Regions from separate parts of the Homo sapiens genome. Here region 1 is linked to region 2. The links come from fine-mapping of genetic effects on gene expression. Tissue or cell type: whole blood. Region 2 holds a variant in brackets; the other region holds the start of a gene. All regions are shown on one strand. Distances are between the middles of the regions.

Evidence for each region.
Region 1: it holds the start of ARRDC2, and the variant in region 2 is fine-mapped to the expression of ARRDC2 in whole blood (INTERVAL, PIP above 0.99).

What each region holds. Positions count from the first base shown.
Region 1 is chr19:18,006,520-18,009,423 of GRCh38, forward strand. ARRDC2 (arrestin domain containing 2) reads left to right here and starts at 1,651. Exons shown (of 8, transcript NM_015683.2): 1 at 1,651-2,065; 2 at 2,192-2,258; 3 at 2,452-2,599. The coding sequence starts at 1,792. RefSeq lists an enhancer at 1,705-1,924.
Region 2 is chr19:18,033,723-18,036,626 of GRCh38, forward strand. No RefSeq gene overlaps it. Among named protein-coding and RNA genes, the nearest start is that of ARRDC2, 27 kb to the left of the region's middle. The variant A/AG (reference allele first, on the strand shown) is at 1,406.

The DNA of each region.
Region 1 (2,904 bases), 27 kb before region 2:
GAGACAGGAGAATCAGGCAGGGAGGTTGCAGTGAGCCGAGATGGCAGCAGCACAGTCCAGCTTCTGCTCGGCATGAGAGGGAGACCGTGGAAAGAGAGGGAGAGGGAGACCAAGGGGAGAGGGAGAGGGAGAGGGAGCTTAAAAATTGTTAAATTGTTATACATTTAAGGAAAAAACAGTGACACTGGAGGGGCGAGGCCAGTGGAGGTGCTGTGTGACCTCGGGCAGAGCCCCACCCATCTCTGGGCCTTTGGGGTCCGTCTGCGAAATGAATTGAGGGAGGCGCTGGCTCAGTAGTCCCTTCAGGGTTACCTAATCCCGCTTCTCCTCCCGGACTTAACGGCCTACTGTCTCCCCTCTAGTATCCATTGAAACCTGGCCTAAGGTCCCAGACCTTCCTTTCAACTCCAAAGACCCATCCTCCCAGGCAGCCTTCCAGGCTGATCACTGTGCCTCCAACTCCGTCGTTCCTGTTCCGATCCCCATCACGGGCTGAGGGTGACCGTGTTTGTTTATGACCGCCCCCTCCACCCACACACCTCACTGAGGTGGTGGAAGTCTCCTGAGCCAGGCTCAGAGGCGGACAGTCACGGCAGGGGATGGGTTCAGCGGCAGCGCATTACGCTGCCACGAGAGGGCGCCAGCGTCCCGCAGACGACGCAGAGGCAACTCCCGCTGGAGAAACTCCATGCGACTTTTCTTTGGGGAAACTGAAGCCCAGAGAGAGGTCACGCCGTCCCGTGGCCACACCGCAGCTGTGGACCTGGGGGTGCCCGAGCGTCCCCTGCATTCAGCTCTGTGGCGGGACGGGGGCTGAGGATGACTGGAGCAGGCACAAGGGCTGCGGGGAAGGTAGGGTTTGCCAGAGGCTGAAAATTGGGAAGGGAACATCATTTCGTAGGTACCGCTCCTGGGCGAATGCGCCGAGGCGCGACCGAGTGACGGTATGTCAAGAGCAGGTTGATGACCCGGGAGCGAGGCTCTTGGAGGAGTCCAGCTGGGGCTGCACGATGATCCATGCACAACCTTCTGAGGTCAGGACTGATTTTTACTTTCTCCCGGCTCTACAGAGGTGGAAACTGAGGCTCCAAGAGGTTGTCATTTGCCCAGAGCCACCAGCTAAGCGGGACTTGAATCAGGAAAGGGGTGCAGCAGGCACCAGTGTGGAGGGCGGTCCCACCCACCTCCTCCACTTCTCCCTTTGCATAGCGGGGGAAACAGGCCTGGAACAGTCATAGGCTCTCTGGCCCTCAACTGGGGCGAGAGTCCCCCGCCCCAAATCGGGCTGGACATGCCTCGAGTCACGTCAACGAGGGGCGGCTGGTGAGTGATTAAGCCGAGAGGCTGAAGGCTCTGCTAGGTGACCTCAGGCCTGGGCCCTGCCTCTGCACCTCTTTTTTTCCTCTTTACCCCCGGGGTCCGCGAGAGACCAGCTCTGGCAGCCTAAGGGCTTCAGTTTCTCCCCGGGGTCCGCGAGGGAAGGGGGCAGCCGGCGGTGAGCAGGGGCGTTTGTTATTTTGCTCCACGCCTGGGCAGAGCCACGCCCCTTGTCGCGCTATTGGTGGAGTCCCTTCCCGGGGCGGGGAAGAGACGGTGACCCCACCCCCCCCCGCCCTGCCGTATAAAAGCGGCGCCGACGCACGGCGCGGGGATTTTCTGCTCCGGTTGGTGAGCGCGCCTGCGCGTTGACGGCGATTTTGCGTTCTGAGGCTGCAGCGTCGGCATCTTGAGCTGCCGGTTCGCGAGTTCGAGGCCAGGTTCCGCCTGTCGTGGGTTCGCACCCCGGACGCGATGCTATTCGACAAGGTGAAAGCGTTCTCGGTGCAGTTGGACGGCGCGACCGCGGGCGTCGAGCCCGTGTTTAGCGGCGGCCAGGCCGTGGCGGGCCGGGTGCTGCTGGAGCTGTCAAGCGCCGCGCGTGTGGGTGCCCTGAGGCTGCGCGCGCGGGGCCGCGCCCACGTGCACTGGACCGAGTCGCGCAGCGCGGGCTCGAGCACGGCTTACACGCAGAGCTACAGTGAACGCGTGGAGGTCGTGAGCCACCGCGCCACGCTCCTGGCGCCAGGTACGGATGGAGGACCCCTGCTCCAACACCAGTTGTGTGCCTCCCACCACCTGGACGGCGGTACCTCCGTCAGCCCTGGGACCCCAGCGCAACCGCTCAGTCGCCTCCTTTTTCTCCTACCTGCAGATACCGGGGAGACCACGACGCTGCCTCCTGGGCGCCATGAGTTCCTGTTCAGCTTCCAGCTGCCCCCGTAAGTCCTCTGGGGTGCAGGGTTGCCCTAAGCCTGCAGCCCCTTCCAGATTGGTACCTCCAATACTGGATATCTGGGCACCTCTGAGCCCCAAGACTCTCCCCCTGGGAGGCCCCCGGAGTGTCTGTGTCTCCTTCTCCCTGCCTGCTTGTCTCTGTATCTTGTCCCCTGAAGTCCCGTCCCTCCACCCTAGGACCCTGGTGACATCCTTCGAGGGCAAACACGGTAGTGTCCGCTACTGTATCAAGGCCACCCTGCACCGGCCCTGGGTCCCAGCACGCCGGGCAAGGAAGGTGTTCACTGTCATCGAGCCTGTGGACATCAACACGCCAGCCCTGCTGGTGAGTGGCCACCCTTGGGGAGGTAGGTTGGGAGTATTGTAGGAAGGGGCCTGCCTGGCTGCTGGGCGACACCAACCAATAAGATGGAGGTCATAGGTGGGCCCTGGCAGGGAGGGAGGCAGGTGTGGGAATGCGTGTGGAATCCACTGGGATCTGCACCCATTTGCCGTGTGACTCTGGGCAAGTGTCTTGAAGCCCTCTCTGAGCCTCAGATGCCTCTTCTGTGAAATAGACCAGAGCTAGGGCTTACCAAGTGTGAATTACACACCAAACACTTGGCTTATACATTTCATTTCTGGCTTTAT
Region 2 (2,904 bases):
CTGAGGCAGGAGAATTGCTTGAGCCTAGGAGGCAGAGGTTGTAGTGAACCAAGATCGCGCCATTGCACTCCAGCCTGGGGTACAGAGTGAGACTCTGTCTCAAAAAAAAAAAAAAAAAAAAAAAAAAAAGTGAGCTTGGAGGCCGGGCACAGTGGCTCATGTCTGTAATCCCAGCACTTTGGGAGGCCAAGGCAAGCAGATCACCTGAGGTCAGGAGTTCAAGACCAGCCTGGCCAACATAGTGAAAGCCCGCCTCTACTAAAAAAAAAAAAAAAAAAAATTACCCAGGCATGGTGGCACATGCCTTTAATCCTAGTTACTCAGGAGGCTGAGGCAGGAGAATTGTCTGAGCCAGGGAGGCGGAGGTTGCAATGAGCCGAGATCGTGCCACTGCACTCCAGCCTGGGTGACAGGACGAGACTCCGTCTCAAAAAAAAAAAAAGAAAAGTGAGATTGGGCTGGACACAGTGGCTCACACTAGTAACCCCAGCGCAAGGCAGGAGGATCCTTGAGCCCAGGGGTTTGAGAACAGCCTGGGCAACATAGTGAGACTCCGTCTCTACAAAAAATTTAAAAATTAGCTCAGTGTGGTGGTATGCACCTGTAGTCCCAGCTACTCAGGAGGCTGATGCGGGAGGATCGCTTGAGCCTAGGAGTTCAAGGCTGCAGTGAGTTATGATTGCACCACTGCACCCCAGCCTGAGAGACAGAGCAAGACCCTGTCTCTGTTTTAGAGACAAATACATGTCTCTAATATATATATAATATATGAAAATATATATCATATATATAGATACATACATGAATATATAGTATATATTTATAGTATATCTATGTATAGTGAGACCCCATCTCTACAAAAAAGAACAAAATTAGCTGGGTGTGGTTGTGTGGGCCTATGGTCCCAGCTACTCAAGAGGCTGAGGCGGGAGGATTGCTTGAGCCCAGGAGGAAGTCAAGGCTGCAGTGAGCCAAGATTGCACCACTGCACTCCAGCCTGGGCAACAAGAGTAATAACCTGTCTTTAAATTTTTTTAATGTAAAAATAAATAAAAATTTAAAAGAAAAGGCTGGCCAGGTGCCATGGCTCACGCCTGTAATCCCAGCACTTTGGAAGGCCAAGGCGGGTGGATCGCGAGGTCAGGAGATCGAGACCATCCTGGTTAACACGGTGAAACCCTGTCTCTAGTAAAAATACAAAAAATTAGCTGAGCATGGTGGCATGTGCCTGTAATCCCAGCTACTCGGGAGGCTGAGGCAAGAGAGTAGCTTGAACCCAGGAGGCGGAGGTTGCAGTGAGCCAAGATCATACCACTGCACTCCTGGGTGACAGAGCAAGACTCTGTCTGAAAAAAAAGGCAAGGCAAGGCAGGGAAGGGCAGGGAAGGGCAGGGAAGGGCAGGGC[A/AG]GGCAAGGCAGGGCAAGGCAGGGCAAGGCAGGGCAAGGCAGGGCTGTTTGGGGCTTCCCTTGCTCTCTGGCGTGTTTCTCTTACCAGATGATGCCTGCACCACGTGATAACACAGCAAGGAGACCCTCGCCGGATATGGCCCAATCTTGGACTTCCCAGCCTCCAGAACCACAAGCCAAATAAACTTCAATTGTTTATAGATTACCCAGCCTGTGGTATTCTGTTACCACAAAGCAGAAAGCTAAGACAGTTGTTTCTCTGAAATTTGAAGTTAACGGGGTGCCTGGATGTGTATTTGCTAAACCTGATCCCCCTGTGATGAAGCCTCCCACATCACAAAAAAAATCTTAGAAATTTAAAACTTAGCCAGGTATGGTGGTGCACACCTATAGTCCCAAACTCAGGAGGCTGAGGCAGGAGAATCCCTTGAGCACAGAAGGTCAAGGCTGCAGTGAGCCATGATCGCACCACTGCATTCCAGCCTGAGTGACAGAACAAGACCTTGTCTCTGTCTTTTTTTTTTTTTTCAGACAGAATCTTGTTCTGTCGCCCAGGCTGGAGTGCAGTGGTGCGATCTCGGCTGATTGCAACCTCTGCTTCCTGGGTTCAAATGATTCTCCTGCCTCAGCTTCCCGAGTGGCTGGGATTATAGGCGTGTGCCACCATACCTGGCTAATTTTTGTATTTTTAGTAGAGACAGGGTTTCACCATGTTGAGCAGGCTGGTCTTGAACTCCTGGCCTCGAGTGATCAGCCCGCCTCAGCCTCCCAAAGTGCTGGGGTGACAGGCGTGAGCCACTGCGTCTGGCCTTCACCTTTCTCTTTTATCCTTACTTTTATTTTTTTTTAGACCGGATCTTGCTCTGTCGCCCAGGCTGGAGTGCAGTGGTGCGATCGCAGCTCACTGCAACCTGGACTTCCCAGGTGCAAGTGATCCTCCTGCCTCAGCCTCTCGAGTAGCTGGGACTATAGGTGCATGTCACCGTGCAAGGCTAAAACTTTTTTTTTAAAGAGATGGGATCTTGCCATGTTGCCCAGGCTGGTCTCAAACTCCTGGGCTCAAGCGATCCTCCTGCCTCGGCTTCCCAAAGTGTTGAGATTACAAGTGCGAGCCAATGCGCCTGGCCTTATCGTTGCTTTTGAGGTGAGAAGATGGAGGTCCAGCATCCAGGGCCAGATTTGAGCCCACTGGGTCCTTTGTCTCTAGCCTTAGTAGCACTGGCCATGAAATGGGACTTTAGCCAACTGCAGGTGACCAAGAGCCAACCTTGCATCTCAGGCTGCTGGGCCCCTCTGAGCTCAGCCCCGGGGGCTTGTTGCAGGAAGGCCCCTCACTTTTATTTATCCCCCCACCCCCACTGTATATGTAACTGTCTGAAACTCACTGTTAACCCCATAAGGAAAAATGTGCTGGCTGGGCACCATGGCTTATGCCTGTAATCCCAGCACTTTGAGAGGCCGAGGTGGGAGGATCACTTGAGGTCAGGAGTTCGAGACCAG